Linked DNA regions of Homo sapiens: all the other regions are reported to be linked to region 2. The links are microRNA targets in miRTarBase. Many come from high-throughput screens and were not tested one by one. Region 2 holds a microRNA gene; each other region holds the end of a gene's coding sequence.
Evidence for each region. Region 2 holds the annotated microRNA hsa-miR-21-5p (UAGCUUAUCAGACUGAUGUUGA, at 1,293-1,314, shown strand). A microRNA usually pairs through its seed, bases 2 to 8, with sites in the 3' UTR of a target mRNA and lowers its output. Matches are read on the target gene's strand: a 7mer-m8 pairs with bases 2 to 8, a 7mer-A1 pairs with bases 2 to 7 and ends in A, and an 8mer does both.

Region 1: the mRNA of PATE2 is a reported target of hsa-miR-21-5p. Seed matches in the 3' UTR shown: 7mer-m8 at 610-616.
Region 3: the mRNA of VPS54 is a reported target of hsa-miR-21-5p. The part of its 3' UTR that is shown has no 7-base or 8-base seed match.
Region 4: the mRNA of TSHZ3 is a reported target of hsa-miR-21-5p. Seed matches in the 3' UTR shown: 7mer-m8 at 1,959-1,965.

Annotation. Positions count from the first base shown.
Region 1 is chr11:125,774,730-125,777,729 of GRCh38, reverse strand. PATE2 (prostate and testis expressed 2) reads left to right here. Exons shown (of 4, transcript NM_212555.3): 4 at 212-1,617. The coding sequence ends at 348. Among named protein-coding and RNA genes, the nearest start is that of PATE2, 2.6 kb to the left of the region's middle.
Region 2 is chr17:59,839,981-59,843,207 of GRCh38, forward strand. MIR21 (microRNA 21) reads left to right here and starts at 1,286; the gene lies at 1,286-1,357. VMP1 (vacuole membrane protein 1) reads left to right here. Exons shown (of 12, transcript NM_030938.5): 12 at 1-2,275. RefSeq lists an enhancer at 332-1,061 and a silencer at 2,347-2,541.
Region 3 is chr2:63,890,902-63,894,096 of GRCh38, reverse strand. VPS54 (VPS54 subunit of GARP complex) reads left to right here. Exons shown (of 23, transcript NM_016516.3): 23 at 562-1,947. The coding sequence ends at 667. UGP2 (UDP-glucose pyrophosphorylase 2) reads right to left here. Exons shown (of 10, transcript NM_006759.4): 10 at 2,537-2,977. The coding sequence ends at 2,870. Among named protein-coding and RNA genes, the nearest start is that of UGP2, 51 kb to the right of the region's middle.
Region 4 is chr19:31,273,884-31,277,110 of GRCh38, forward strand. It overlaps TSHZ3 (teashirt zinc finger homeobox 3), which reads right to left. Exons shown (of 2, transcript NM_020856.4): 2 at 1,062-3,227. The coding sequence ends at 2,664. Among named protein-coding and RNA genes, the nearest start is that of TSHZ3-AS1, 46 kb to the right of the region's middle.

The sequences.
Region 1 (3,000 bases), not on the chromosome of region 2:
TAAGACCATATTGAGTGAAAAAGAGGCTGATGTCCCTTACCTGGCAGGGAATAAAATCTACTCTCTGGGTCAGCAATTAACAGACTCAGCTTTGGAACTCATTTGGGCCTAGAGAAAGGTTAGTGAGGACACAAAAACAGATTACTCCTAGGAACGCAGTAAAAGGAAATGAGGTCATTATGATCATATTTCCTCTCTTTTACCTCCTCAGGGCAGAGCATGTATCATTATTCAAAACTGTCGTGTATGACCAGCTGTGAGGACATCAACTTCCTGGGGTTCACGAAGAGGGTAGAGCTCATCTGTTGTGATCATAGTAACTACTGCAACCTCCCTGAGGGAGTTTAGTTCTACGTCTCTCCTGGATTTTGGGTTCTTTTTCAACCACTACGCTCTTTTTCTCTTCCCTGAACCTGAATTTTGCTCTCCTCTTCTATGCATTGGTAGAGAGTGAGAAAGCCAGCTCATAGTGAAAAGACAAGCAGGCATAAGGAGACGCAGTGTGGACAGCGGAGCCTATTGATGATGGAGCACTAGACTCACTCTTTGCACATCCCTGTCGCTAACAGGTGGGAGGGGTTTTGCTCTCCTTACGTGATACTGCCATGAATAAGCTCAGACTTGGTCATTTATTATCTCCTGTATGAAAATGTGAACACTTGGGCCATAATAATCTCCAATTTGTACTGAGAATTCTGTGACTATCCTCTATCCTCATCTACACACACACTCCTCTCCGTTGGAATTCTCTTTGGATTAGCCCTGACACTTTCTGGCACTGTCCTTTTCTGCCCGTGGGTTCTGGAGAGGGCTAACCCCAGCTTCCCAGTGTGTTGGCAGCATGGGCCAAGTCTTTCTCTGATAGAGCTCTTGGGGGAACCTCAGGGCAGAAAAAAAAAAACTGAACAGACATAGGGATGAGCATCAAAGAAAACTTCAGGGGGCATTTCAACTGGTAAAAACTAAGATCTGAGAAATAACTTGCTGTGGGTGGAATTGGCTTGAATTATCATTGCCCTGGCTGGCCAGGCAGCCTTGGGCACATGGTTGAACTAGGTGATTGGATTGGGAACAGAGTGTTTTTTTAAGGATGGCTAGTCAGGTTCTTCTCATGGGACTGAGCAAACAAAATGCTGATAATGTGGCAGGTGGTGTAGTAGTTGAAGATAATAGGATGTAAATAGATACCATGAGGTAGTGTTCAAGTAACAGAGTGCCCTGTGTAAGAGGAAGTTATGAGTTTGCAGAAAGTGTGAGAAAGGTAGCATATATGGGTAACAGTGGTGGGAAGAGAAGAAGGAAGACACAGAAACAGATAGGAAGAGAAACTGAGTAGCATTGATGTTGGAGCACACCTGTGGCCAAGGTGGCACATTTTCCTTGGATACACACTAACCCTGGTGTTTCTGTCCTTATAAGGCTGACTGCACCCTAGATGACGGGTTGATGGGTGCAGCAAACCACCATGGCACATGTATACCTATGTAACAAACCTGCATGCTGCACTTTCTTTCATGTATCCCAGAACTTAAAGTAAAATAAAAAAATAAATAAATAAATAAAGGCCAGAAAAATTGGCCAAAAAATCTGAATAGAAAAAGATATACAGATAGTAAATGAGCATATGAAAATATGCTTAACATCATATCTCACTAGGGAATTGCAAATTAAAACAACAATATTACGCAACTATACATTTTAAATGGTCAAAATCAAAAAAATAAAAAACCCTCACAGTAGCAATTTTTGTCAAAGATATAGAGCAATAGGAAATCTCATTTATTGCTGGCAGGAATGCAAAATGGTAATGCTGTTTTGGAAGACAGTTGGTAGTTTCTTAGAGAGGTGATTATACTCTTGCTATGTCATTCAGTAATCATGCCTTTAGATATTTACTCAACCAATTTGAACAGTTATGCCCACACAGAAACCTGCACACAAATGTTAAAATCATATTTATTCATAATTGCCTGAGACTAGAAGCAATAAAGATGCCCATCAATAAGTGAATGGATATGTAATCTATGGTACATCCAAACAGTGGGATGCTACTCAATGATGAAAAGAAATGATCTATCAAGCTATGAAAGGACATGGATACATTTTTAAATGAATATTGCTAAGTTAATGAAGCCAGTCTGAAAAGGCTACATACAGATGCTCCTCAACTTATGATGGGGTTATATCCTGTTATAACAATTGCAAGTTGAAAATACTGTGAACTGAAAATGCATTTAAAACACTTAACCTTCCAAACATCATAGCTTAGCCTAGCCTACCTTAAATGTGCTCAGGATGTTTACATTAGCCTATAGTTGGGCAAAAGCATCTAACACAAAGCCAATTTTATAATTGGCTTTGAGTATCTCATGTAATTGAGTATTTCATGTAATTTATTGACTACTCTACTGAAAGTAAAAAACAGAATGCTTGTATGGGTACTAAAGTATGGCTTCTACTGAATGCTTATTGCTTTCACACATCTTAAAGTTTAAAAAACTTGTAAGTCAAATCATTGTAAGTCTGGGAACATGTGTACTCTGATTCCAATTTTGTAAAAGACCAAAGTATAGGGTTGGTGAAAATATCAATGACTGCCAGTGGATTAAGAGGAAAAAAGGGATTGAATAGGTAAAGTATAAAAGATTTTTTAGGGTGATGAATCTATTCTGTATGATACTATACCAGTAAATACATGACACTATGCACTTGTCAAACCCCATAGAACTTTACTGCACAAAGAATGAAACAATGTATGAGAATTAAAAGAAAAATCATTTAGGAAGTCAGAGGATTCCAGGAAGGAATGCACAATGTGACAAAAATGATGTAACTGTTACAAATGTGTGAAACAATCTCTCTGAGTTGAGTTGGGGGAAAAGTTTCTGATCTGAGTAACTTTGTAAATGAGTGGAGCCTGTAAGCTTAAAGGCAAAAGAAAATGTACACAAGCTCTGCACTCTACTTGATAAAATTGTTTTCCCCAAGGTTATAGGTTAA
Region 2 (3,227 bases):
CGGGAAGGAAAATTCCCTTTTCCAACCTGTATCAATTTTTACAACTTTTTTCCTGAAAGCAGTTTAGTCCATACTTTGCACTGACATACTTTTTCCTTCTGTGCTAAGGTAAGGTATCCACCCTCGATGCAATCCACCTTGTGTTTTCTTAGGGTGGAATGTGATGTTCAGCAGCAAACTTGCAACAGACTGGCCTTCTGTTTGTTACTTTCAAAAGGCCCACATGATACAATTAGAGAATTCCCACCGCACAAAAAAAGTTCCTAAGTATGTTAAATATGTCAAGCTTTTTAGGCTTGTCACAAATGATTGCTTTGTTTTCCTAAGTCATCAAAATGTATATAAATTATCTAGATTGGATAACAGTCTTGCATGTTTATCATGTTACAATTTAATATTCCATCCTGCCCAACCCTTCCTCTCCCATCCTCAAAAAAGGGCCATTTTATGATGCATTGCACACCCTCTGGGGAAATTGATCTTTAAATTTTGAGACAGTATAAGGAAAATCTGGTTGGTGTCTTACAAGTGAGCTGACACCATTTTTTATTCTGTGTATTTAGAATGAAGTCTTGAAAAAAACTTTATAAAGACATCTTTAATCATTCCAAAATTGTGTCCGTTTTCTTGAGCGTTTTGATTTTTTACTTTTAGCTTATACCAGCTGAATGGCAGCCTTGCCTAATCCACCTACAACAAGAATTTCTTAAGCTTTCTTTTATTTGCATGAGAGAGCCACTACCAAGGCATGTTTTGTTATGCTGAAACTGGGCTGCTGCATACTGCTAAATGGCACCTCTGGGATTGGCCTACCTGGGGATTTCTTGGTTTGTGAAAACAGGAGAGGAGAAATATCTCATACAAGTGAAAGGATACTGGAGAGAGAAATTACCCATTTCTAAAAAAAAACCACACTCTGTCGTATCTGTGTTAATGTTTTCTAGCATGTACTCTGGTTTCAACAGACACAAATTTATATGTTAACCCAGTTTTCTTGCCGTTCTGTAAGTGTTTTATTCTTAGTGTGATTTTTTTCCATTGGGATGTTTTTGATTGAACTTGTTCATTTTGTTTTGCTTGGGAGGAAAATAAACAATTTTACTTTTTTCCTTTAGGAGCATTATGAGCATTATGTCAGAATAGAATAGAATTGGGGTTCGATCTTAACAGGCCAGAAATGCCTGGGTTTTTTTGGTTTGTTTTTGTTTTTGTTTTTTTATCAAATCCTGCCTGACTGTCTGCTTGTTTTGCCTACCATCGTGACATCTCCATGGCTGTACCACCTTGTCGGGTAGCTTATCAGACTGATGTTGACTGTTGAATCTCATGGCAACACCAGTCGATGGGCTGTCTGACATTTTGGTATCTTTCATCTGACCATCCATATCCAATGTTCTCATTTAAACATTACCCAGCATCATTGTTTATAATCAGAAACTCTGGTCCTTCTGTCTGGTGGCACTTAGAGTCTTTTGTGCCATAATGCAGCAGTATGGAGGGAGGATTTTATGGAGAAATGGGGATAGTCTTCATGACCACAAATAAATAAAGGAAAACTAAGCTGCATTGTGGGTTTTGAAAAGGTTATTATACTTCTTAACAATTCTTTTTTTCAGGGACTTTTCTAGCTGTATGACTGTTACTTGACCTTCTTTGAAAAGCATTCCCAAAATGCTCTATTTTAGATAGATTAACATTAACCAACATAATTTTTTTTAGATCGAGTCAGCATAAATTTCTAAGTCAGCCTCTAGTCGTGGTTCATCTCTTTCACCTGCATTTTATTTGGTGTTTGTCTGAAGAAAGGAAAGAGGAAAGCAAATACGAATTGTACTATTTGTACCAAATCTTTGGGATTCATTGGCAAATAATTTCAGTGTGGTGTATTATTAAATAGAAAAAAAAAATTTTGTTTCCTAGGTTGAAGGTCTAATTGATACGTTTGACTTATGATGACCATTTATGCACTTTCAAATGAATTTGCTTTCAAAATAAATGAAGAGCAGCTGTCCTTCTTTCCTCTTTTAAGTGTTCAGCTGTGGCATGCTCAGAGGTTCCTGCTGGATTCCAGCTGGAGCGGTGTGATACCCTTCTTTTTCAGCTGTTCGTGCCTTCCTTTCTTGTATCCACCAAAGTGGAGACAAATACATGATCTCAAAGATACACAGTACCTACTTAATTCCAGCTGATGGGAGACCAAAGAATTTGCAAGTGGATGGTTTGGTATCACTGTAAATAAAAAGAGGGCCTGGGAATTCTTGCGATTCCATCTCTACTTTGTATAAGTCTCATTTTGTGCCTTACACATCTGCAGTATTTATCATGTTCCAACTTGGTGACTGTCAGGCAGTGCAATACATCAGCAGTTTATCACCGAAGAGCTGAGGAATACCTCCCTTAAAACAGACAATGTCGGCCGGGCGCGGTGGCTCACACCTGTAATCCCAGCACTTTGGGAGGCCAAGGCGGGCAGATCACCTGAGGTCAGGAGTTTGAGACCAGCCTGGCCAACATGGCGAAACCCCATCTCTACTAAAAATATAAAAAATTAGCCGGGCGTGGTGGTGCACGCCTGTAATCCCAGCTATTCAGGAGGCTGAGGCAGGAGAATCCCTTGAACGCAGGAAGCAGAGTTTGCAGTGAGCCGAGATGGCGCCACTGCACTCCAGCCTGGGTGACAGAGCAAGACAAAAAAAATAACAGATGATGTCATATGAAAATGTGCAATGTCCAGTTTTCCCATAGTTTTCTGTATTCTCTGTGTGCATAATCTGGAGTATGAGTCTGGGAAGAAAAAGGTTTTTAGTTTCATTTGGATAGTGGCCACCTCTCCATTCCCTACGAATGCTAGAATGAAGTTACTTTTTTTTTTTTTTTTTTTTTTTTTGAGACAGAGTCTTGCTCCGTCGCCCAGGCTAGAGTGCAATGGTACAATCTCGGCTCACTGCCACTTCCGCCTCCCAGGTTCAAGCGATTGTCCTGCCTCAGCCTCTGGAGTAGTTGGGATTCCAGGCGCCCACCACCACACCAGGCTAGTTTTTGTATTTTTAGTAGAGACGGGGTTTGGCCATGTTGGTCAGGCTGGTCTCGAACTCCTGACCTGAGGTGATCCACCTGCCTCGGTCTCCCAAAGTTCTGGGTTCACAGACGTGAGCCACCATGCCCACGTAGAATGAAGTTTCTTAAATACACTAGTTAATTATTGAAACATATGCAGTATTGAGTGC
Region 3 (3,195 bases), not on the chromosome of region 2:
TTCCTGACGTTTACCATTTTTTCAGTTTATTGGTTATTCAGGTGTTTTCATCTGTGACTTCTTATGTTCTTTCCTATTTTTCTCTTGGGTTTTTAAAGAAATATCCAGTATCGCTTATATACATGAATACTAGTCTGTATTTAACGCCTTAGATGACACTTAGAAACCTAGCCTGCTTTTCCCTTGAGTTTACTATTTTAGTCAGCACTCCCATACTCTAGTGCTAACCAATCAAAAACATTTTAGTTTAGCCTGTTATTTTCTCTGTATATTAATTCATGCTGTTTCAAGATAAATCTGATTTTCTTGGGCTGAATTTATCATGAAACTGACTCTAACAGCCATTGGTTTATTCATTTTCCAAATATTTATTATTGAAGTACAGCATTAAATGGCCTACTTATTCATAGCAGGAATCCTGCTAAGTAAAGTATTTGGACACTTGGGCACTAAGAAATCTGAATTTTAGATAATAGGACTCTGACTCGGTGAGCACTGTTACTTTAATTATCTGAATAGAAAGTTTGAGATTTAAAAAATAATTTTCTCTCCATTATTTAGGTTGGTCACAGCAGATGTAGCTTTTTACACTGGAAATCTTCAAGCCTTAAAAGGCCTTAAAGATTTGGACCTAAATATGGCCGAAATTTGGGAGCAGAAGAGGTGATGTCATCCTGGAAAACTGGGTAGTTCATCTGACCATGGGATGTGTTTGTTATGAAGAAAATCTGGATGCCTGTGATTCGAGAATTGAACCTGAAACCCAAAGTGAACTGGGGTGGGGGAAGGGAAAAAGGAAAGTATCAAGTGTTGGGAAACTGGATTCAGTGGGATCTACAAGGAATGTCATTTTTGTGCATCCTACAGTGAGGAGTAACTGATCAGGTGTCTATAACATTTTTCATTCTCTCTGGAAACAGACTCAGGTTTCTTTGGACCAAATCCAAAAGAACACATAGCTGTAACACAGCTGTAGTTGACTAGAATGCTCTGTATACTTTATATTAAAAAATGCTTTGCATTTCTTCCAGTGCAATGAAATTCATATGGTGTCCCACCTTATTTAATGATGGTACAATTTAAAATCTTAGTCAACTTCTGTAGAAAGTTTTCTCTATGAAAGTAAAGCTGTTTGAAAAATTATTATTTTTTTACAGATCTTTCTATAAAAAATAAACATCTTTTGATTGCTTGGATTTAGGAATTCAATTTTTGTTTCAGTGACCAATGTCAAGTTGCAGGCTTTGTGTGTTGCATATTTAATATTTCTACTACCACCGTATGTCAACTGGGTAAAGCCTTCCAGAGCTCTCTAAATACCTGAAAGACTTAAGCCTTTTTTTAAGTAATTAATACTTAAAAAAAAAGATCCTGGCATCTATTTATGCAACTAAATACTTTTCAGAAATGGTATATAAAAGGCTACAGTTTAATATCTGTATTTTTATAAAAGTATGATGAAGGGTTTGGGGTGTTTTTATTTGTAGCAGAGGTAAGAATATGTATTCATATAATCTGCCTACTTTTGAGTTCTCATATTAACATTTAGATAACATATGAAGTATGGCCCCCTTGGATCCTTGTTTTTAAGTTACTTTCGATGTGTATACGAACAAAGACCAGGGAGAAACAGAACTTTTAAAACTATAGGCTGCTGTGTTGGGGCCAGAAATAAGGTGACAAGTAAAGACTTTTATAATACCTACCTTCAAAATTAGAATCAGCAGCACTGTACAAATAAAGTGCCTGTGCTTCACCTCACACCAAGAATCTTGCCTAACCCTGTCAGAGTGCCTAATATCCTGTGGTGATTATGTATAATGAAACAGTCTTATTTTGTGCTCTTTGGTTTCTTAAAAGGAAAGCTTGTTTTCTTTCCTTTATCATTACAGAGGTATGTCTTTGGTTCTTAAACTATCTGTCTAAAATAAAGCTGTAAAAAATTAACAGACTTTAAAAGGCAACTTTTTTTTAAGTGGTATATTGTGAACTTTAAACAAGCAGCCTACTCAAAACAAGTATGGATGAATTTAAAGAAAAGGCATAAATTGAACTACCAGCAGACCTGAATGGAAAGATTATTAATGATCATTTTTTCAGTGATAATAAACAAGCTTCAGGAAATGAAGCTTCAGGGAAAGGGAACTTTTTATGAAGCTATACCCCCTACCTCACTATAGAAGAGTACAAGGATGTGAAGAAATGCCTTCCCTTTGCCCACCCCCGTCAGCTGGGAAAATAAATGCCACTTTGTTTCAATAAATGGAGAGTTTGTGGAAAGCATGGCAGGCATCCCAGTTTTAGAACTAGATGAAAGGTAGGTACTAAAGAAAATACCTTCAGTTTAATTCCTGTGGAAATAATGGTATGATTAAGATTCTTAGAAATGCCAAAAACTGGACTCATTAAGTACACACTGGCTAGGTAACTAGCCAGTGTGTACTTAAAGGGCAAATCTTCCAACTAATATAGTAACTGTCTAACAACAATAAACCAGTTTATAGTTAGCATTATAAAGTACCAGTGTACACAAGTATTGCTTCACTGCTTTATTTTTGAAATCACAAGCAATTCAAAGTGATCATCATTGAGGCTTCTGTTAAAAGTTCTTCCAAAGTTGCCCAGTTTTAAGATTAAACAATATTGCACTTTAAGATGAACTAACTTTTGGGATTCTCTTCAAAGAAGGAAAGTATTGCTCCATCTGTGCTTTTCTTAGACTAAAAGCATACTGCAGAAAACTCTATTTTAAAAATCAACACTGCAGGGTACAGTAACATAGTAAAGTACCTGCCTATTTTAGAATCCTAGAGAACATTTCATTGTAAGAAACTAGCCCATTATTTAAGTGTCCACAGTATTTTTCATTTCAGTGGTCCAAGATGCGAAGGTTTCCAGACACAATCTTGTTCTCTAATACTGCTCCAGGTGGGATATCAATTCTGTCACCATGATTTGCAATGATGATAACCGTTCCCTAAGTGACAGGGAAAACAAAAGAGTGTACTTGCAACTGAAATGCAATTTGATTATCTTACAGTGATCAAGTTTATGTACAACTTTTTTTTTTTTACAGTGAAGTAACTTTTTTTATAAACAATATTAAACATGAAAAACAAATAACAGTTAAGGAAAATTGTAATGTGTCCTTCTGTAACAATCCTGGCAGTAGTTCTAGATTCTCTGTCTCCTTGT
Region 4 (3,227 bases), not on the chromosome of region 2:
AACCCACCTGTGTGCCCACATCCCAAGGCAAGAGCTTAGCTAACACAGCACTCTCTATTTGCCAAACAACTCATTTTAAATTGTAGTGAGTTTCTCCCTAAAAACCCGGAGAAAGATGGAATGCCGAGAGAAAACAGAGTAGACAGAAAAATTTGGACTCCTCTTGAGAAAAAGGGGTGGGGATGAGCGGAAAAACCGTAGGCGTGTTGCCGAACATCTCTGAAAGGGCTTAAATTTTTAATAAAATATGTGTTTTTTTTTTTAAGTTGAGGTGTTTTATGTATTACATGGATGTAATACATCTCTCATTTGTATAATTCTAGGTTAGGAGCTATGATTCTGCATAACTGCAAGAGTAGTTTGAATATAGTAATAAAGGTATTTTACAATTTTACATGATGTTCCCAGCGTTTTGTTGGCATGATTTGCCGGGGCTAATAAAAGCTTGTGATTATCATATAAATGCTCTCCCCCTCCTCCCATGGATGGGTTCAGTCTCCTCCCACAACACCCCTGCCTGCTTATCTGTGGCTGTTTTAACACAGGAGGGAGAACCTTGGGACCCCAAAGTCTGTCTGACCCGATTGGTTCTGTTTCCCGCTGTTTGAAAATCCTGAGTCAACAGGAAGGAGTCACCCTTTCAAAGCTTTCTTTCCCATCAGCCTCCTTGACAGTGCAGGGCCCTGAACCCCGGGCATCCAGAAGAGAGATCAAACCCCAGACCCCCATGCAGGTCACCAGGTGTGACCGGAAGCTCTGATCCTGGGGGTCTGGCAATATCCCTTCTGCACTGAGCATCTAACCTTATAGGCATATCTTCCTTTCTTGTGAATGTTTATTCTCGGTGCAGATCCTATTCGAGCTGCCTCTGAGTAAGTGCTCCCTGCTCTCCAAACGCCAAAGTTCACTAAAACTCCCCCTGATTTACGCACAGCTTCCGACTGCCAGCACCTGGCAGCCGCAGCAACCAGCTCCGTCATAAACAGATCGCATACAATTTAATTTTAATGTGCTCGTTAGTCGTAGCACATTTCAGACATAATTGTGAACGCAACACAAAATTATAGCAAAAAGACAATTTTAATGCTGCCGTAGAAAAAAGGGTTATATGAAGAGTCACATAATGGTGCTTCATTGTCAACAACCAAACAGGGCACAGAGTGTGTTACGGTGTCTGTGCTGTTTACATGCCAATATTTTATACAAAGGTTCTCATATGGTGTCAGCTGTCAGTTACTTCTGCAAATTAACTGCCAAAAATGGAGAAGAACAGAATCACTTGGAGAGCCGGTAACCACGGGTTACCTTTCATAAGCCTAAAGATAAAGCTGCAGTGTGGGATCTTGGGAGAATAATTAGGAAGAACAAAACAGAAAGTTACCAATTGAAATAGAAAGGCATCCTACAATATGGAATAGCAACCAAGAGGGCTTATAAATAAGTGAAAGAGGTTGGATCACAGAATGCCTCATGACTTTTAAGCAAAGTATTACAGTACAAACATTTTAAAGGCTTTATCAATGTTTAGGAAATACAGTACAAGTTCTTTTTTTTTTTTTGTTCTTTTTTTTAACCTTTTCAAATAGACTTAACCCTTTGAGCACTGAGTTTATTTTGAGTGTTCTTTGATTTCTAATAAATACCTTTAAAAATCATGTGCAAAATAGTTCTGATGCCTGCCAGGGATGTCTTTCCCGGTCTCGTTTATTCAGACTGCTCAAAACAAATGACAATATGATGCTAATAAATATGTATAATTTAAACATGAACCTCTATCAATATAGATGTACTGTATAGCAAAACAAACTATCATACTTTGCTTTCAGATAATGTTTCTGTATACTTTATAAATGCTATCTGTGGTATCTTCTGTATAATTTACAATGTTTGCATGTAAAAAACAAAACCCATAGACCTTAAAAAAAAGAAAAAAAGAAATATACACTATACATAGGCACAGCTTATGCCCAGAGCATAGCAGGTGCATAAAACACTGTTGCTATAAATGCAAGAAAAAGGTCATTTAACCACAATCACATTTTTTTTCATAAGAGAGTCTGAAATCTATACAATATATACATCTATGTTTCAATGTGAAAATAATATTCTTTTAAATTTCAAGGCGTGTTATACCCCTGCAGACCTGCATAAATGGAGGTTCATATTATTCATTATAACTAAGCTGGTAAGGAGTTTAAAAAACAGAGCTTCATACATTATTATTATTTTATTTTATTTTTTAACCAAATTAATGCAAAAGTGCTTCAAAGTACTCAGAGGGCTAAAGATGAAAGGGTGAGAAATGCCAGCACACTCGAGTCTCGTGGAAAAGGTGTGCCTGATTCCGTTATAAATGCTTAATTAAACTGTCTGTTAATGCATGCAGCTTGAAGCATCGGGAGGATGCTCACAACTAAATCCCGTTTACACAAAGTTCCAAACACTTACCACTGCATTTTAACCTTCATATTTTACCAGTAACAACAGCTGATTATGCACCTCTATTAAACACTGTACAGTTATACAAAACAGTCCAGCCCAGAGTGATTCTCTGCAGTTAAAATAAGAACATGTGCCAAGAACAACAAGTCAGAGGGGGCCTGAAGGTGCCTTCCACAGTTTCCCTCAAAGCAAACTGCAGTCCTTTCTATCAAAAGCAAATGCTACTGCTTCTCTAACTCAGAGACATACAGAAGGTGGTCTTCCGGAGATTTCCCGTGTGTTTTGCTAAGGTGAAGTTTAACAGCGTGCTTGCTGGCAAAGGTCCGATTGCAAAGTTTGCACTGATAGGAAGTCCCCAGGTCTTCCTCGGGGGAGGACGTCACCATTTTTTCTGACGGTGACTTGGTTTGTGCTATCTGACTGTTAATCTGTTCGGTGGACAGTTTGGATAAGTCCCGTAGCCGGAAGCCTAAGTGTGACTCTAGGTGACTGATGTACGTGGAAGGAGTCCTGATTTGGGACGCACAATCGTTACAAAAGAAGACGGGGTGGCCAGTGTCCAAGTTTTTGAGGAACTTTGTTCCACCTGTCCTTCGAAGCTGGTATTTCACGTTGGCCAGCCAGTGGCTGATGGTGGTCATGGACAGCCCGGTGAACCTGGAGATATGCATCCGCTCCTGGGGGCTCAGGTCTGACATGATGTACTTCCCTTCTGAGGTCTGCCGGAGGCTGGCGGCAAACTGGGCCTGGAGGATCAGGAGGTGCTGGGGGTTCCAGTTTGACTG